Linked DNA regions of Homo sapiens: region 1 is linked to region 2. The links come from fine-mapping of genetic effects on gene expression. A gene starts in region 2. The other region holds a variant in brackets. All regions are shown on one strand. Distances are from middle to middle.

Region 1 (4,388 bases), 180 kb after region 2:
TGCCCGATATTGCAGAAGCTCAGCAGAGCTACATGGCTTCAACAAAACTAAATTTCCTGTTTTGTAATAAAATTGATGGAGCGATCTGAGACCCACCCTCCATAATAAGGCAAAATTTCTTAAAATATTTTGAAAGTGGCAATATTTTCTCTAAGGAATAACTGAAAGATGGATTCATTTTCATCATTAAATATGGGATGAGAATGCCAGATAAGTTTTAATCTGTAATTTTAAGAGAAGGAGAGAGAGGAGGAGATGATTTTTATGGATAAAGTAAGGTTGGGGATATACTTTGAAAAGGAAGCTTTTCAGGCAGCTGTTAAAATCTTTAAAAAAATTTTACCCCCATTGGAAGGGTGTTACTTATCACCTGGACCTGGAGAATTTTAGAGCTTTAGGAATAAACTGACAGTTCTCTGATTCTGAGCAGTCTAGCTTTGCTTTGATGAAGAGGCTAACGCTCTTCCTGGGTTTTGCTGGAAAGCCCCAAGGCCTTCGGGCTCCACGGAGGGGCTTTCTGCGTTCAAATCGCCCCTCCTGCTAATAGACCACCTAATTGGCTAATTGTAGGCTCAGCCATTCATTTCGGCTGCAATTAGCCACTTACTTCTTACTTTGCAGATACAAGTGGCCACTTGAATTCTCAAAAAGTCCATTGTGAATTCAGTTATTTGTGTGTCTCATTCCACCTGGACAGAGAGTGGTTAGAAAAAAGAGTAAAATAAAATAAATGATAGTCCTTGAAATAAAATCCCTCTGAAATCTGGCTCAGGCTTTCTCAATTCTGAAGTGACAATAACCTGAACAGTTCTTTTTTCAAAAAATGCACATTAAACATAAGACACACATATATCCCAGTAACTGGAGACTTAATTTTTCTCTTAGTGTCCATAATGTAGAGCAAGACATACCCACCTGCTGTTTTTCAGCTTCTTAACTTTCCGTAAATCTACTTTTCCAACCCTTAGATCTGCTGTGTGTAATTTAATTGGCTACTGTACCTTTCTGTATAAAATGAATGTGCTAATTTCTAGAGTGATGCATTAATTCTCTTTGTTATCCACAAAATTCTGGAGAAATGGAAGATCTATTTTAAATGTCTGCCCCTTGCTGACTCTGTCTTCCAGCAAAGTGGAAGAACTATTGTTTTCCTACACCCTTTTGATGTGGTCGGTTATTGTTATGTTGGGTCAAAGGGACTTACCTGGGGGATGACAGATGCAGACACTCTGCCACCAGCTTCCTTAGAAGTGCACAATAGCAACCAAATCAAATCACTGAGAGGATACTGGGTAGAAAGTTGCTTTTGGGGAGAATTCTAGGAAAGAGAAGACTGTGACCTCTGTTACTGCACAATGTCAAGGACAGATGGGAAGAAGGTATGAATCAATATATGTCAACGGCACAGATGGTATAGCCATACAGTGTCCACATCCTGATTTTCTATCCCCTGAAACTGAAATTAATAATGCCTTCATTATAGGCAGTAGCTGCCAAGCAGCTGAGAGAACCCAGCACAACTAAGAGCACTGCTCTGAGCAAGGTGTTTGAAACAGGAGTTTTCGCTGTCTGTCTCTGTCTCTCTCTCTCTTTTAGAAGATTAGGAATGCTATGGATCGTGAGGCAAAAGGGAATCATCTTTTGATGCTGAGTTTTACAGGTTCAATAAACCAAAGATAGAGCAACTGTGGTTGCTTCGTGCTTTGCAATATGTTTGTGCCAGGGAATCTTTCCCCAGGTTCTGGCCATGTCATAAGGGAGAGGGTTAACTTTGCTGTGCCAATTATTGGGCTTGCGGTGTTGAAGATCTCAGACCAGGGTTGGAAGTGGAGTGCAAAGTAAAAATAAGCAACCACAAACCGCCAAAACAAGTATTGGTACATCTCTACAAGCTCCGGCTGGTAATGATGAATTCAGTATTCATCACATGGACTAATTAATGCACGCTAACACAGCCCAGTGCAATTTGCGAGTCACAGATTGCATTAGGTGATACAAATGACTCATTTGTGAACCTGAAGGATGACCTTTGGCAGGACTATCTGCTGACCTCAAAAATATTAAAGAAAGGTTATTTCACCTTGCCATTGTCTCCAAATGCCAAAATAGCCCAATTAAAAACCTTGACTTGGAACCATAGGAGCAGATGCGAGTCCTAAAGGGCATTAATTATTTTCAGTGTCAGCTGGTTGTATAACTGAGGCCAAATGAGAGTTTGGAAAGCTATTAAGGCAGTGTATTATATGCACTGGGTCTAAGATTTGAATTCAGAATAAGGTGTAGATTTCATCTATTTAGGCAAGCTGTATAGAATTTGTGCTGGCTGTCCTGTTAAGGATTAAGGGCTAACATAGGCGAAACGAAGCTCATCACCCTTGCTGGGTTCTTCCCTCTGTAATCATTCATCTATTTTCCTAAGTCTATTTGCAGAACCATCATTAGTTACCATATTGTGAGGTCAAACGCATAAACGTGTGCAGCATTAGCTTGCTTCCAAGTGGACTTTTCTCCCTCTCTACAAGTCTAAGCACTGCAAATGATCCTGTACTATTTCCACCCCCAAATGTGGTGACAGATGAAGATATGTACCCAAGCTAGGTTCCCATATGGCTAATTTCTACATTTGTTTTAACAACATGCAGATTTTTAGGCAAATTAAAACACAGGGACTTCCATATTCATGGCATCCTCTCCAGTGCTGTCATCCCTTCCACCAAGTGGGTTTCAGGGAGTCACGCTGGTGCCAGAGCCTGCACTAAAAGGAAAAGGGGCAAGCATATCTATGAGGTGTGATTGACTCACAAGAG[T/C]TCCTGTTAAAAAAAAATGGAGCCAAGTGCAGTGGCTCATGCCTATAATCCCAGCTACTTGGGAGGCTGAGAAGGGAGGATCATTTGAGCCCAGGAGTTGCAGGCTGCAGTGAGCTATGATTGCACCACTGCACTCCAGGCTGGGCAACAGAGCAAGACTGTGTTTCTTTAAAAAAAAAAAGAAGAAAGAAAAGTTCCCTTGGCATTGCCTGCTGCACATGCCTTTCAAGTCACTAACTTTTACTGTGGACACTGGCCACCAAGGCCTGCCATGTGTCCAGTAGGTACAAAGCAGAGGTATTGGAGGGCAGGGAACGACATATTCTTTTCAGCCTCTTTAGAGCTGAAGTTTCAGATTCTGGTTCACCTTCACATCCAGTTGAAAGGGATGGAAAAGGTAGAACAATATGATAGGAAGTCCAGGGGTTTGGGGACCAGACAAATCTGGGTTTGGATCTCAGTTTGGTTATTTAGTTGCTGTGTAAACCTGAGCATGTCCCTAACTCAGCTTCAGCATCCTCACCTCAATCATGATACCTGATAGGATTGTTAAGAAGATTACATTAAGCATATGTGTGTATACACACACACATACACACACACACACACATATGTATATAATGAGCACCTTTTTTGGAATACATCTTTCTAAATATTGATGATTTGTAATTTCTCATATATATATGTTGCAAGTTATGTACACATATACCTAAAGAGGTGCTAGGATATCATGGTTATTGTTATTTTTATTGTGGGGAATTTATAGACAGTTTTCAGAGATCTGATTTTTTTCCTCTAGATTTTTCTTTCTGTCCTTTTGTGGGGCTATGGGCAATGCATATAGCAGAAAAACACAGCTTAGAAATTAGAGTCCTGTCTTTAAAGCCCTGTTCAGTTGGAAAGTTGCTTAATCTTGATAAACTTCAGATTCCTATCTGTAAATTGGGATAATAATATGTACCGTCGTGTTTTTTGAGAGGATTAAATGAGATAATCGATGCATATGGTGCTTGGCATTTGGTAGGAGTTTGATCAATAAATGCAACTTTACTCTCCTTGCCCTCAGAATATTCCTATCCTTTGTCCCCACATATGCTGTTAATAAGCCTTTAGTTGAGAGAAGATGTGGTTCTGTTTCAGGTTTCCCAGGCTAGTTCCCTGGTGTTTATTTATTCAAAAAAATGAGCACCGTTGTTGGAATATGTCTTTGCTAGACATTGATGATTTGTAACTTCTCATTCTCAAAGTTGAAGGGAGATCTGCTTTTTCATTTGGTGTCTTTATGTTTCTCTGTTGTTTTCCAGCACATTATTTGGTGACATCCCATGTTATAGATTAAAATATTGCAGGCATCAAGATTGTTCTCACTGGCCTCTCAGATATGATTGGTGTTATCTATGAGATAACCCTCTCCGGGGATTTTCTCCTCTGGCTACTTAGACCACATGTTACCCAAGCAACATGAGTACCATGTTCCCCCTACAAGGTTGTTATTATTCCAAACTTCCATTTCAAAAAAAAAAAAAATCTTAATTTCATCCTAAGACCCTCATAAATGCCAGCAGCTGATGAAAGCAGGTT
Region 2 (4,388 bases):
CCAGACTCAGCTGGGAGTCCTGCAGTTGAGGACTGTTTACTGGAGAGTAAAATGGAGGTTCAGGCAGATAAAGAGAAGGAGGCCTAGGCCTTTTGCCAGGGCTATATGGGACCCATTGATAGGATGGGTGGGCTTTGCTTCCTCATCTCCTTACCTTCAAGGATCCTCTCTGAGCTGGAGAATATGGCCCAGGCAGGGGGAGGGATTGACTCTGGGGACCCCTTTGGACCTGGAGCATAAGGTTAAGTTTGGAGCTTTAGAAAGTTTTTAGCAGGCCAAGTTTCAATTGTGCATTTAAATACTATAGAGACTGAAAATGTTCACATACCTATCCCCAAAAACCTACAGCCCTTCAAGTCTCTCCACCATTATACTCTTCTTCGACATGAACGCTATGTTAGGAACCCCTGTGAATGCTATGGGGATCCCAAAAGATCAGACCAATCCCTTCAGGGAAGTCCTGGAAGAGATGGCATTAATTATGGTACCAGGGGAAAGTGCTCAGCACACAAGAAGTCTAGATTACATGTGTGAGAGCTGGGCAGGCCTCGTGCACAGGAGATAAAGCAGTGTTTGAGGACAGTGGCCATGCACTGCAGGCCAGGACCACACTCTTTCATCCAGTTTAGGAATCAGGAAGTGGCTCCACTGCTCTGCCAAGAGCACAAAGCATAACTCTTGCCTGTCTCTATTCAACATGGGCATGTGTACTTTTCCATCACTGACCCCATGAGCTTCCTAAATCAAAGGACCAAGGAAGGCCAGCAGAAAGGGGACCTGGATTTCTGGCAGATAATTTCCCCGAAGGAGTCCTTAGCAGATTTGGCTGCAGTCAGGGAGTTCCTTTGAGGGCAATGAAACAGAAGTTCACCATGTGCTTATTAGAGGTTACAACCTGCTAAAAAATGATGGGGTACATTACCCAGAAACTTCTAGCTATTTCCTTTGCCAGCCACAAAGATACATGCTGAAAAGCCTGAGGAGGGAGACAATTTCGTCCTTTTTTCTTTCCCTTTTTCCTTCCATCTCTCCCATTTCCATTCGTTCCTTCTCCTTCTCTCCTTTCTCTCTCCCTCCTTCCTTCCCATTTTCTCTTCCCCTTCTTCCTTTTTTGTCCTTTCTCCCCACCTTCCTTCTCTTCTCCCCCCACCCTTTTCATATGGCAGAGACAGAGTTAGGAAGGATTTGTTCAAGCCCTCCTTTTTAACAGGAAGAATAAAGGAGGATGAGAAAAACCCTACACCAAATAACCAGCTAATCAAGGACGGTTAACATTGCTGTTGCTTTGGTAGTTACTCTAAAAACAAACGAACCAACTACTTGGGGTGGGGAATGAGGGGTTGGCATTTAATTTGAGAAAATTTAAAAACGCATCCTGACACAGCCCCAGTGAGAGCATTCATTCCACCATTCACATATCTCGAGGACTGCCCGAGAGAGGTGAGCGTGTGAGTGAGAACAGTGCCCAACCCTGGCAGCCTCTAGGCTAGCGGCCGAGAGAGAAGCGTTTCAGAGGCCGGGGTGGGAGTAGAGCCTGGTACCCCACTTCCTGGGGACCCACAGCGCCTCATTTGCCGGGGCCCAGCGTCCATTCATCCCTCCCAGCGTGGAGGCCGTGCCCCTCCGAGAGTTACCAGCCCCGACCTCGCGCACCCATATTCCATCCCACCGCCCCCGCCTCAAAGCGAAGAGGTGGGCACCTGGGACGCGCGTCCTGCTTTTTCTGCCCGGGCTCTCCCGTCTCCTCCACTTTTGTCCCCGACGTCCCAGAACGGCGGAGCAGGACGCGGCATCAGCCCTGGGAGGGCGCAGCCTGCGAGCCTCCAGCGCGCTCAGGGCGCGGCGAGGATGCTAAAGGACTGCAATGGCCAGGATGCAGATCCCCAGCTCAAATTCCTGAGGAAGACACCCGCCTCCCTTTCCCTCTGTCCCCTCTCCGTCCTCGCTCGGACCCGCTCCTCCCCAGCCCAGACGTCAGTGCTCAGCGCTCCTTCGCTCGCCACTTTGCGAGGAACTTTGGCCGGCTCCCCTGCGCCACCGGGAGCGGGATGTTAATGAGAGAGCGTGGCCTGGCGCCGCCAGCGAGCCGGCTCCCGGGCCGCGATTGGCTGCGGTGGGCGGAAAGATGACGTTATGCAAATGAAGGGGCGGGGCCTCGATGCGCGGGCCCCGCCTCCTCCCTTTGGGGTTAGTGTGCCTGTGTTTAGCTCTGGGGAAAGTCAAACTGGATTCCATAGGGAAAGCCTGCAAATCACTTCTATTTTAGCAAGGAGAAAACAGAATCTCCATCCAGCAGGGTCCACCCCTCTCTCTTTCTCCCTCTCCTCTCTATCTCTCTTTCCCTCCCCCCCTTTCCTCTCTCCCTCTCTCCCCTTCCCCCCACCCTCTCTGGTGTATCTGTCTACGGCAACCAGCGTCCTCCTCATCTACACGCAAAGGAAAGAAACATCTTTGGTTGGGAGAGAAGGAGGAAAAAAAAAGAGAGAGAGAGGAAAAAACTTGCCTGGTTGTGGAAAATGACACTTGAAGTAGCAAAGCCGGCAGCGCGAGTTGAGTCTATTGTTTCTTAAATTGCCATCAGGGTTTTTTTTTTTTTTTTTTTTTTTTTTTTTTTTTTTTCTTCCTGCTTCTTCAAGTGAAGGGTACCTCTACAAAAGGAAACTCCAGCCCCTCCTGTCCTCCACCGGCCTGTGATCATTACAAAAAAAAAAAAAAAAAAGCAAAAAAAAAAAAAAAGCACCCAAACCAAAAATCAACCAACCAAACAACCCCCAACAGCCAAGCATACATCTCTAATTTTATTATTTTGGTCTTTTCGTTGGATTTTCCCTTTCTTCTTTTTTTCGGGTTATCGCTCAGTTTTGAGCAGAGGTTTACATTTTTTAAAAATTTGCTTTCCAGCCCGCCTTGATCTTCTAAGTGCGAGTTCATCGTCTGAGAAAAAAAAAAATCTCTGGTTGGCGTTTTTGTTTCTTTTCTTTTCTTTCTTTTCTTTCCTTTTTTTTTTTTTTTAATTTTTTTCAAGGGGGAGGAGATTTTCCACAAGAAAAGGTTGTTTTCATGTTTGGGATTCAGGAAAGCATCCAACGGAGTGGAAGCAGCATGAAGGAAGAGCCGCTGGGCAGCGGCATGAACGCGGTGCGGACGTGGATGCAGGGCGCCGGGGTGCTGGACGCCAACACGGCGGCGCAGAGGTGGGTACTGCGCGGGGACCGCGGCCGAGGTGAGCCGCGAGCGGGAGAGCCGGGAGGCGGAGGCGGCAGCGGCAGCGGCAGCTGCTGCCGCGGGGCCGGGCGGCGGGGTGAGTCCGCAGCCGCTGCGCTCCGCTCTCCGCCGGGGCTCCGCGCTCTCCAGCCGCTCTGCCTTCGTCGCCTGCGGCCGGAGGACCTGGAGCTGTCTGCGAGGAGCCCACGCTTTGCCAGCACTTTCCCCTGCCTCGTCTGTGACTGTTTTCATTTTGTTTTAACCCAGAAGAGGCGTCTCAACACAGCATGTTGGAGATCTGTGTTTTATGTTTTTATGTGATTGCTCTTTCTTTTCCGGCCGGCTCTCTTTTCTTCTTTCCCTTCGCTCTTCCTTTCCCTCTTTTCTTTTTTCTTTCTTTCTTTCTCTTCCTTCCTTCCTTTTTCTTTCTTTTTTCTTTTTCTTTCTTTTTTTCTTTCCTCCTTTTCTTTTTCCTTTTTCTTTCTCTTTCCTCTTCCTGCCTTTCTTTTTTCTTTCTTCCTTCTTTCCTTTCTCCCCCCTTTATTTTCTTCTCTTCTCCTTCCTCTTCCTTTCTTCCCCTCTTCCCTCCTTCCATTTCTTTCGTTCTTCGTTCTTTCCTGTCTCTCTTCCTGCCTTCTTTTCTTTCTTCTTTCTTTCATTTCCTTCTCTCATTTCTTTCCCCCACCTTCCCTTAATTTCTCCCTCACTCTTTTCCTTCCTCCCTTCCTCTCTCCATTTTCTTTCTCTTCTTTCTTCAGCTTCCCTCCTTTCTCCTCTTTCTCCTTTCCTTACCTCTCTGGCTTTCCTGTTTTTTCGTCCCATTTCTCCCCTGAGTCTTCTCTTATTTCTGCTATCTCGTTCTCCTTCCCTCCCTCTCTGTCTTTCAGTTTTTTCTTAGTCTACCGGTAGAATAGCAACTCCCAACTTTAATTCTGATATCTCCCAAAAGTCTTCTCCAGCCCCTGTCACCATGGCCCCTTCCAGCCCTTCTCTCACTCGCAGCTCCCTAGACACTAGACTGTGTGGCCTGGAGGCATTGCCCTTGGAGGTTGACCTGAGGGAACTTTCCTGGGCACACCCAAGGCTCTTTCCCAGGCTCCTGGTCCCAAGTGAGAAATGGCCTTTTTCCCCCCATTAAGCCACCAGCTGAGCTTGGGACAGTGGGAGATCTGGTGGCCCCAGGC

Which allele goes with the higher level. Alleles are on the strand shown, and positions count from the first base shown. SD is a standard deviation of normalised expression in the study named.
As copies of C replace T in region 1, the expression in testis of the gene that starts at base 2,623 in region 2 goes down (moderate effect, 0.51 SD a copy in GTEx).

Evidence for each region. PIP is the estimated chance that this variant, and not a neighbour inherited with it, causes the effect. A credible set is the group of variants that fine-mapping cannot tell apart.
Region 1: its variant is the best candidate, but not a certain one, in a credible set for the expression of EBF1 in testis (GTEx, PIP 0.87).

What each region holds. Positions count from the first base shown.
Region 1 is chr5:158,919,183-158,923,570 of GRCh38, reverse strand. The region is part of intron 6 of EBF1 (EBF transcription factor 1); the gene reads left to right. Among named protein-coding and RNA genes, the nearest start is that of EBF1, 180 kb to the left of the region's middle. The variant T/C (reference allele first, on the strand shown) is at 2,808.
Region 2 is chr5:159,098,151-159,102,538 of GRCh38, reverse strand. It overlaps EBF1 (EBF transcription factor 1), which reads left to right and starts at 2,623. Exons shown (of 16, transcript NM_024007.5): 1 at 2,623-3,194. The coding sequence starts at 3,061. It overlaps LINC02202 (long intergenic non-protein coding RNA 2202), which reads right to left and starts at 2,056. Exons shown (of 3, transcript NR_109890.1): 1 at 1,701-2,056. RefSeq lists enhancers at 1,088-1,714, 1,715-2,343, 4,093-4,388 and a silencer at 3,161-3,450.